Regions from separate parts of the Homo sapiens genome. Here region 1 is linked to region 2. A link means that fine-mapping ties the variant in region 2 to the expression of a gene that starts in the linked region. Tissue or cell type: subcutaneous fat. Region 2 holds a variant in brackets; the other region holds the start of a gene. All regions are shown on one strand. Distances are from middle to middle.

Region 1 (5,432 bases), 69 kb after region 2:
ATTGGCCATTACAGGATCTACAAAGTGTGTCAACCCTGTATGGACAATCAAAAGTTGCTCTGCCTATCTGTGAATACCAGCTCCGCCACTTAATAGTTAGCTAAGGTTTGGTAGCTCACATAATTATCTCTGCTGCCTTAGTTTTCTCATCTGCAAATTGGGTGTAATGGTAAATACCTACCTCATAAGGTTACTCTGAGATTTAAATGAGTTAATACACATAAGGCACGTAGAATAATACCTGATCCTGGGTATACATTTCAGAATACCACCTATGATTACCATGATTATTATGTGGAGTAAAAACATCTTGATCATCACACTGTTTCTATCATTCTTCTAGGTCCAATGCCAGTGCTACAGTGGGAAGCTCCTTTGCAAAGAATTCCATCCCAGGCAGAAGGCAATGCTTTAGGACCCTAAGAGAGACCCATTCCCAAAGCTCACAGGGAACATGGCTGGAGTCCAAGAGGCTGTTCTGCCAGAGAAGCGCTCTGGCACCAGAGGGCAAATCCCCATTTTTCCCCAAGGTGGAAACCACCCACAGTCATCTCCAAACACCATGCTCCAGCAGGAGCCACAGCTTGGAGCCTCAGCAGCCCCGCCACTGCAGAGGTGCAGCTGCACGAGTCAGTCAGGGGACAGGGCATCAGTCACCCGGAGGCTACAGGCAGGAAGCCAGTGTGGGGGGCTCGGGTGGGAACAAGCCACGGACAGGAAAGCATTCACACAGGGTGGGTCCCCATGCTCTCCCATCTCCTCATTGGCGGCCACAGTGCGGGTCCTGGATGACAAGCAAAGGCCATGCTTTCTTGTCTCTCAGTAACTTGAGCATCTCAGAATCACAACCCCAAACCCGAATAAACCTCAGTGGCAATTTTCAAAAGTTTTGACCCAAACTAACCCCTTACCTGGCTGCACTAAGAGGCAACCCCAAACCCCTATTTATTAAAAAGCTACATCTTTTTCTGTTTTCATTCCAACAAAGATAGCAAATAGGTGCCCTCCCTGAAAGGCAACAACCACAGCAGGGAGACCCCACTCTAGTCCTCAGCGTGCGCCTTCCCGGGAATCAGAAGCAGGACTGGGAAAGCCACCCTCACAACTTCTCTCCGGGGGACCCCCTGCAGATCTGCGTGGGGGTGAGGGGAAATGACTGAACAGCAGCAGACGCCGAGCCTGGAGGTGAAGACAAGCTGGGTAATGTGGTGCTGGAAAAAAGAAACCAAGCACAAAAACAAGCACACGGAAAAAAAGGAGGAAGGAAAGAAAGGGCACCCAACAACGCACTGATTTATCCCATGAAATAGCTCCCCTTTCTCTTCCCAGCCTAATCAACACCTCCATGAACCCCTGCAAAATGGGCATTTCTGACTGCACACCTGTGCGTGAATCCACACTGACAGATACTGATGCAGAGCAAATACTGATTGTGTGAGGGAAGGAAATAACTTGAACTTCAGACTCATTCGGCAGGTCCTGATTCTCTTTCACTATCAGCCTCCCCACCTATTCTGAGCCGCTCCGAAACAAAACAAACAAGACCCAACTCCTGGGCAGAAAGGGAACAGCAGCTGAGCTGAGCAGCACATGCTTGGAGCGTTCCTGCCATCGACTTCGGATTATTTCTGCTTTCTTGAGACACAGCCATCAGCATGGGACTCGATGCAGCCCGGAGAGAGCACCGCCCGCGCAGCGACGCGCACAGACCCTCCCTTGGAGACGCGCTCCCCGGCGCGTGCGGCCGAGCCCGCGTGAAATGCACAGACCCTCCGGTGAGGCTCTGCCCACGTGTGACCCTGAGCACTGCGAAGCCCTTCCCTTCCATCCTCGCGTGGCCACCCAAAGTCTTGCCTACACCTCGTACGTGCAGATGCCAATTCCATAGAAATACATGATGTAAGGACAGAAATGGGAACGACTGGAGGCTGATCTTCTCGTGACCACGTCTCGCCAACGCGGTGCGCCCATGCACACGGCGAGTAAACGCACACAGCCGGTAAACAGCCATCCCCACCATGCTCAGCCCACAGTCACGCGTGGGGAGAAGGCAGCGGAGAGGGCGGCGGTGGCAGGAGAAGTGGGAAGTCGCGCGCCCGCGTGGGCTGCTCCCTGACAGCCCGGCGCTGCCCCCTCCCCCTCCCGGGAACGGCGCCCACCCGGGGGTCGCAGGCCCACGCGTCGGGCGCGCTCGGGGGGGCTCCGCAGCGCCGAGAACGGGACAATGAGGACGCGGTGACAGGCTGGGTTTCTGCCGCGGTAGTGGCGGCGGCGGCAGCTGGAGCTGCCCGTGCAGCCCCTGCCGCGGCCACCTCCACCCTCGCCTCCCCGGTCCCCACTTACGTTCCGAGGGTCTCTTTGAACTCGAAGATCTTCTTGATGTCTTCAGCTTGCTTTTTCCAGGAGGAGCTGCTCTCGCCGTTCTCCCGGGCCATGGCCGACGAGCGCGGCGCGGAGGAGCGGCCGGGGGCGCGCTGGGGAGGGGGCGCCGGGGGCGCGGCGCGGGCGCAGAGGCGGCGGGGATGCCGGGCGGCTCGGGCTGCGGCGCAGCTTCCTCCTCTGCAGTTTCCTCTTTCGCTCTCGCCGCCGCCGCCGCGGCCGCGGTCCCTCCCTGGCTCTTATTTCTGCTGTTCTCGGGCACAGACTTCCTGCCGCCGCCGCGCGCCGGCTCCTTTGCCGCCGCCTGCCAGCCTCACTTTCTGCTACTTTCTTGCCTCCCTCCCGCTCCCTCCCTGCCGCCCGCCGCGCTCCCCCCCACCTCGCGCCTCCTCCCCCTCCTCCCCCTCCTCCCCCTCCCGCGGGCTCCCCGCCCTCTCCGTGCGCCCCGGCCGCTCCCCGCCTCCAGCGCGCCGCCTTCGGGGATGTCCCGCTCCCCTCCCAAGAGCGCCGGGCCACGGCCGTCGTGCCCCCTGGAGCCCCGGCGAGGGCGGGTACGGGCCCCCGGCAGGTGCGGGGCGCACGCGGGAGAGCCCCAGCCCCTCCGGGAGCTGGAAACGGAGCCCAGTCTGGGGGCGCCGGGGCTTTCCCGTCTCCGGCGGGAGGGGGCGCCTCTGCGTGGCTCGGAAGCGCCGGGCGGGCGGGGGTGCGCGGCGGCCGGATGCGGGGCGCCGAGGGCGGGGCGCCTTCCCGCGCTGTGGCCTGTGGCCCGGGGGACCCGAGGGGCAAGGCGTGGGGTGGGGGGGGTGGGGGCCGGTTGTTATGGCGACGGGCGGCGGCGGCGGCTGGGATGGAGGCGGAGGCGGGCGGGAGCTCATTCGCATTGCACCAAATCGGTTTCACGTCAGTTTCGGGACAGACCCGCGAGGAGCAAGCCGGGGAGCCTCTGGGCGGGTACGCGCAGGACGCGCCAGCAGCTGCCTCGTGGTCCCTTTGCGAGCAAAACTCCCGGGGGTGTTTGGCAGCCGCGCGGGCGCCCTGGTGCTGGGCTGGAGCGGCCGGCGGGCCTGGCCGGCCTGGTTGCCCTGGCTCACGCTTGGCCCCTTCTGGCATCTCCCTGTCTCCTCCCAGAGACTCAGTGGAAAGAAGTGATCGTCTGCCCCGCAGTCCCCTCGAAGGAGGAGCCCACCCGCGGCTGGCTTAGTAGGGTGTCCGGGTTGCGGGGCAGGCACCTGCTTTCCTATGGACTGCCAAAACTAACCCAGAGAATTCCCTCCGGACTCCCATCTCCCAGCTGTACTTTGGCCTGCCCGCCCCACTCCTGGTGTCCACCTGTCAGAGGGCAGCCCACGTGCTCCAGTTCCCTGGTCCCCAACCTGCAGGGGCGACCTCTTGATCGGAAAATTTTAGATTTCTTGGTATCAACACTTCGCCTCCCTCAGGGCCTCTCCTCGTAGTTGGGTAAACAGCTCTGTCTCTTGACTGGGGACACCTGTCCCATTTTCCCAGGACTGTTCCAATTTCACTGTAAAAGGAAAAAAAAAATCTGCTCCCTGAATAGGAAACTTCATCCAGCACCTTGTGCCTAGTTCTGACTCTGGCTGAAGTGGAGGCAGCCCAGCTGCTCTCCCTCAGCCCCTACTCTGACCCTAAAGAGGTCAGACGACACCCTGGCATCCCCATTCCTGGGACCTCCATGCTAGTTTCCATCTTTCAAAGACGGTTAGCTTAAGGTTTTCCAAACTGAGAAGAGCAAAGAGGGGATTTACTTGCCGGTTAGATGTAGAATAAATCCACAAACCCAATTTCCAACACGGATGGGTGAGAAGAATTACTAAGGAACCTCTCTTATACTTGAGGCACATTACCAAAGTTCAAGGCAAACAGCATCCCCTTCAATAAGAAACATTTGAAAAACTATCATGTATTTTACTTGTGCCAAAGGTTAGATAATACAAACAGTGGGAACCAGGGCATAAGTCAACTAAGATCCCAACTGTCGCTTTCTCATGCCTACAGTCAGCATCTTCTTGTCCTTTCTTTCTCCTTCCCTTCCTCCCACTGTGTTTCCTTCTCCTCTTTTCCTATTTGGTTCTCTGCTATGTTGCCCTTGCTGCCTGGCCTCAGGAACAGCCGCCAGAGCTCATGAAAACAATTCTCATTCTCAGCTATTATCCCCACAGCTGAAGAAGTGCTGATTCTCTACTACCCGGCCATAAAAAAGAATGAAATCATGTCTTTTGCAGCAACGCAGTTGGAACTGAAGGCCATTATCTTAGGTGAAATAACTCAGAAACAGAAAGTCAAATACCACATGTTCTCACTTAGAAGTGAGAGCTAAGGCTAGGCATGGTGGCTCACGCCTGTAATCCCAGCACTTTGGGAGGCCTAGGCCAGTGGATCACCTGAGGTCAGGAGTTCAAGACCAGCCTGGCCAACATGGTGAAACTCTATTAAAAATAAAAATTAGCCAGGCATGGTGGCACATGCCTGTAATCCCAGCTACTCAGGAGGCTGAGGCAGGAGAATCACTGTAACCTAGGAGGTTGCAGTGAGCGAAGATTGCACCATTGCACTCCAGCCTGGCGACAGAGCAAGACTCCATCTCAAAAAAAAAAAAAGGAGAAGAAGTGGGAGCTAAATAATGTGTATATGTGGACAGAGAGTGTGGAATAATGACATTGGAGTGGGGTAGGGGAAGGGATGAGAAATTAACTAATGGGCATGGTGTACCCTATTCTGGTGATGGTTAAGCTAAAAGCCCAGACCTCACCACTACGCAATATATCCATGTAACAAAACTGCACTTGTACCCCTAAATCTATAAAAATAACCATTAGAAAAAAAGAAAGAAGGCAATTTTACAGGAACAGTAAAGATGAAGGGAAAGCAAATGAGAACTTCCACGTGGCCTGTGGCCGTGACTTTTCCTACCAGGCTATAAGCTCCATGAGAGCAAGGCACCTGTTAACTTTCTCGCCACTGTTTCCCAGCACCTGACACGGTAACCTACCCATACTGACTGATCTGTAAATGTGTGTCGAATGGATAAAGAA
Region 2 (5,000 bases):
GCAAGACAGAGGCTGTTAGAAATATGCAGAATCCCTAAGTAGTTTGGGGGCACATTCCATTTTTCTAGACAATTAAAAAAAAAAGAGTATATTTGACTAAGGTGTCCACCAAAAAGTCCCAAACAAATCAATAAGGGTTAATTAGTAAACCTCAGTTACCTCAAGATCTTACTAAGCCATAAAATCCACTGCCAATAATGCCTTGTTGGAGTTATGAAAACAAAACAAAATAATTCATAAAGTAGTAAGAACTATTAAAGTAAAATCATTAAAGTTCATTCATTTGAAGTGGACCATCAAGGGTAATATGAAAAGGACTACTACTACTACATCAGCTGCCACCAGCTCTATCACTAAAATACCGTATTTTTTAAAGTTACATAGACATGGGCCAGGCGTGGTGGCTCACGCCTCTAATCCCAGCACTTTGGGAGGCCGAGACGGACAGATCACAAGGTCAGGAGTTCAAGACCAACCTGGTCAACAAGATGAAACCCTGTCTCTACTAAAAATATAAAAATTAGCTGGGCGTGGTGACAGGCACCTGTAGTCCCAGCTACTCGGGAGGCTGAGGCAGGAGAATGGCGTGAACCCGGGAGGCGGAGCTTGCAGTGAGCCGAGAGCTCGACACTGTGCTTCAGCCTGGGCGACAGAGCAAGACTCTGTCTCAAGAGAAAAAAAAAAAAAAGTTACATAGATGTCATTTTTCACTAAGGCTGAAAAAAGTATTCTATCTAATTATTCACTGCTTACTAAAAATTCTAAAAAACTCAACTTAGTTTATTAAATCACTATGACAACAGGATCCACCCAGAGTCATGTTTCTGGTGGAAAAGCTACTGTGGTAACCACTTATTTACAAAAGAAAACCTAACGAGAAAACCCAACATATACAAAGTCCTAAGAAGCTGAAAAAACAGTTTTTCTAATCTCAGTATTTTCTGCAACCTAGAAGTTAACAAGAACTCTATTTTTGCGTGTGTGTGTGTGTGTGTGTGTGTGTGTGCATTTTCTCTTCTGATCTAAGACTGAATCACTTTCTGGCTTCATTCAGAATCCACTGAGGCCCGGTGGGGAGTGAGGTGTGCAATTTTATGCACTAAGAAAACCACAGCGGTGACTCATGTCTAATATGTGCCCTGCATGTTGTCAAGAAAGGCTGTGGAAAAGTCAGGAAACAGGACTTGGCTCTGGTTATCGCGTGTATTTCCCCATTTTTCATAGTAACTTGGAAAATGTTGCTACCCAACATTGGAAAATGTTACTGCGCAGTGTTCACAGGTGTCGGGATAACCCAGTTCTATTCTGGGAACTTTGAGTTCCGTGGCCCCAGGCTCCCAACCTCACCTCCTTGAGTTTGGTTTTCTCACTCTTGCCTTTTATTTATTTTTTTTTTCATAGGGGCAGAAAGTAGGGGTGAGTATTCATGAGATCATGGCTGTTGAGTTTTGAGGAAAATATATGGTAAAGTCATTATAGCTTATAAAATCTCCCGTCCCTGGGGTTTTAAAAGGCAGGAGGGAATGCCATTCATTTGAGATGATGAAGTTTGAAACGGATGACCTCTCAGACACCTTTCCGAATGTGAGGTCCAAAAGAGACAGGGAAGTTCATTCAATAGGGAAAGTCAAGCACCAATGTTGAAACAGGCAGCTGCTCTTAAGTGTTCTGTGAGCAACGGCTTCGGACACACCACGCCCGCGACTGAGGCCTTCCACCTATGGCCACTCTCGGCTGAGGCCTTCCATCTATGGCCACTCTGCAGGACATCCCTCGGCAGGGGTGGACGGTCACTCCCCATCTCCCACCACGTGGGGGTCTGCAACTCCCAGACACACCCAGCAATTGGAACCTTTGCTCAACTGACTGATCAAGTCTTTTCTAGTAATACCTTCATTCGTTTTAATACTTTTTAAAAGGTTTCATTTTGGACTAGCAAATCAGAAAAAAAATTTAATGCTGATCACTGGCAAGGATGTGATAAGAAGGTCATGCTCACACATTGCTAGTTGGAGTGCAATACATAACTTTTTTTAAAATAAGAGAGAGTCTTGCTCTGTCACCCAAGCTGGAATGCAGTGCATGATCCTAGCTCACTGCAGCCTCAAACTCCTAGGTTCAAGCAATCCTCCCACCTCAGCCTCCCCAGTAGCTAGGACTACAGGCATATGCCACGGTGCCCAGCTAATTCTTTAAAATTTTTTGTAGAAATGAGGATGTGGCTATGTTGCCCAGACTGCTCTTGAACTCCTGGCCTCAAGTGACCCTCCCATCTCAGCCTCCCAAAGTGCTGGGATTACATGCATGAGCCAGATGCCCAGCCCATCTCCATCTCTAATCAGTCAACAGCTGGCCAAGCTTTCTTCTTTCACAAGGCATGGCCG[C/T]GTTGCAATCATATGTTTTGATGGCATGTTCTCTGCCTCATCTGACCTGCTGGACTGAGGCCTACCAAGTAATTCATTCTCCTCCCACACCCTGGGGATCCATATTCATTCTTGCTTACTGCATCATCTGGCAGGGCGAGGGCTTCTTTTAAAGAGCATCGAGGCCAGGCGTGGTGGCTCACTCTTGTGAGCACTTTGGGAGGCCAAGGCGGGCCTCTTGAGGCCTTGAGGTCAGGAGTTCGAGACCAGCCTGGCCAACATAGTGAAACCTCGTCTCTACTAAAAATACAAAAATTAGCCGGGTGTGGTGGCAGGCGCCTGTAATCCCAGCTATTCGGGAGGCTGAGGCAGGAGAATCACCTGAACCCAGGAGGCGGAGGTTGCAGTGAGCCAAGATCATGCCACTGCACTCCAGCCTGGGTGACAGAGTGAGGCTCCATCTCAAAAAAAAAAAAGGCAAAAAATAATTATTACTGTTATAAAGAGCATAGAGATGCCCACTACCCATTGGCCTTCCACATAAGAGTGTAGCCACTCCATCGCAGGACCTCCGTGTTCCTTGCTTACACAGCTCCCCAGATGGCCAGCCTCGGGCCTCCCCCAGCCCTCATTTCTGAAGGAGCCAGGAGGTAGAGGAAACACTAGGAGGCTTGGAACTCAACTGTGGCTGAACCCCAGTTCCCAGGCCAACAGCCCAGGGCCAAGCCATCTCCCCACCCCAGCCGGAGCCCCAGAGGCTGCCCTCTGCAGAACCCTGAGCAATTCCCCTGGCTGGATGCCACCTAAACAACTCCTGGTTACCTCTTGCTCTGTAAGGGATCCCGCCTCTGTTTTCTTTCTCTCGAACCTGTTTTCTCTGGCACAGCAGTATCCCCAAAATTCCTTGCTCTCTTCAAAACATGACATTGACAGTCTGTTCAAACCTCCCTGGAGCATCACCCAAATCCACAGTGTAGTTCTCCTGTTCTTTGTCTCTCTCTCTCTCTCTCAGTCTCTTTTTCTGTCTTACATACACACACAGATGGAAGAAGACTCAGAAGGTCATAGGGTCCATCATCCTGCGTCTAGGTAATAAAAATAATATTAACAGCTAATATTTTTTGAAAACTTGCTATATGCCAGGCACTGAGGTAAGTTCCTCCCATGGATGTTCTATGAGAGACAAGTACTGCCACTGTCCCCATTTTACAGATGAGGACAGAGAGGCTTCGGGGGCTTGAGGAACCTTGTCCAAAGTCCCACCATTAAACTGGGATGCAGGCCCAAGCAGTGTGACCCCGGGCCCCCAGTGACAATTAACAACCACCTCCATGGGTCTCAGCCGTCTACAGCATCGCTAGCACCGGAAGGTTTTTAGGGAGTCTACCAACAACACAATCAGACACACCCAAGGCAAAGCTCATTTTTGGCAGAACATGCCCTGGAAAGCTGGGAGCAAAGGGGAAGCCCTGGAGTAAGCTCAGCTGAACTGATAAGGAAAGGGCAGAACCCACCGGAAAAACAGAACTTCACTCTTGCTGGAAACTGACACAGAGTATGGCAAGTGAGTTCTGCTTCTCTCCACCGCCCAGTGCTAGTCAGAGCCCTCCCTCCGGTGCTCAGCAAGACCCCGGCCTTACAGCAATTCCACTCTGCAAATGAAGCCCTTCACCATGAGCAGCTTCCCCAGGGCACAACTGTGGGATTTTTCTGCACGGACTCTTGGCCTGGCCCCATCCGACAGTTTATAAATGAAGGCCTCCAGCCGGAGCTGCAGCAGAGCAGAGACAGGAGCGGAGACCCTTGAGTCATCCAACCCCTGTTCTGTGCTACACTCTTTTTCCAACTCTAAATTTTATGTGCAACCAGCAAGCAATCAAGACAGGAAAAACAAGCAAAGTTTTACATACACCGACAAAATGCTGATCTGTCTATTCTATTAATAATACAAAATCTCAGCAAATGCAAATGGCATTGCATGCATAATTCCATAAAAAGTTAAATCCACACTAAATGTTTCCACCTGAAGTGACATTTCCAGCGACTTCTCCATTAATATAGTTAACGCTGTTTTTTTAAAGAGATTATTCTGTATCTCCTAAAAAAAATGTAGATGCTAAAAAAAAAACAAGAATAATATCCAAAAAGTGAATTCTATATACCACCTTTTATTCTGAAATACTGCACGTCGTAGCACAAGACTAACCCACAATCATATAGTTAGAAATATTTCTGCCCACAGTCTAATGCGAATGGTTTTTCGCTTTCTTTTTTCTTTTTTTCCAGGTCTCAGTGTAATACTAGCGCTAAAGGAATAATAATCAACCTCAGATTCAGAACATATGCCAAACTGCTCAAACTGAGGCTGAAGGATCACTTGAGCCCAGGAGGTCGAGGCTCCAATGGGCTGTGATTGTGCCACCGCACTCTAGCCTGGACAACAGAGCGAGACCTTGTCTCAGAAAAAAAGAAAAAAAAAAGCCATCTCATTATCAACCATGTCTATCTTTTTTTAAAAGAAGACAAAAAAAAAAAAACGTAATTTTAATCCACTTCCGTAGGGAAGTGACTTCTTAGCACTGACTTTAGAATAATGACACAAAATATCTTGAAGTAGGACCTTGAAAAATAGTCATG

Direction of the effects. Positions count from the first base shown, and alleles are read on the strand shown. Sizes are in standard deviations (SD) of each study's normalised expression.
As copies of C replace T in region 2, the expression in subcutaneous fat of the gene that starts at base 2,707 in region 1 goes down (moderate effect, 0.46 SD a copy in GTEx).

Evidence for each region. PIP is the estimated chance that this variant, and not a neighbour inherited with it, causes the effect.
Region 1: it holds the start of CAMK1D, and the variant in region 2 is fine-mapped to the expression of CAMK1D in subcutaneous fat (GTEx, PIP above 0.99). The same link has a PIP of 0.9 or more in fibroblasts and visceral fat.

What each region holds. Positions count from the first base shown.
Region 1 is chr10:12,346,822-12,352,253 of GRCh38, reverse strand. It overlaps CAMK1D (calcium/calmodulin dependent protein kinase ID), which reads right to left and starts at 2,707. Exons shown (of 11, transcript NM_153498.4): 1 at 2,344-2,707. The coding sequence starts at 2,435. RefSeq lists enhancers at 1,559-1,718, 1,893-2,392 and silencers at 2,429-2,518, 2,689-3,248, 3,289-3,548.
Region 2 is chr10:12,415,647-12,420,646 of GRCh38, reverse strand. All of the region lies in intron 1 of CAMK1D (calcium/calmodulin dependent protein kinase ID), which reads right to left. Among named protein-coding and RNA genes, the nearest start is that of CAMK1D, 69 kb to the right of the region's middle. The variant C/T (reference allele first, on the strand shown) is at 2,385.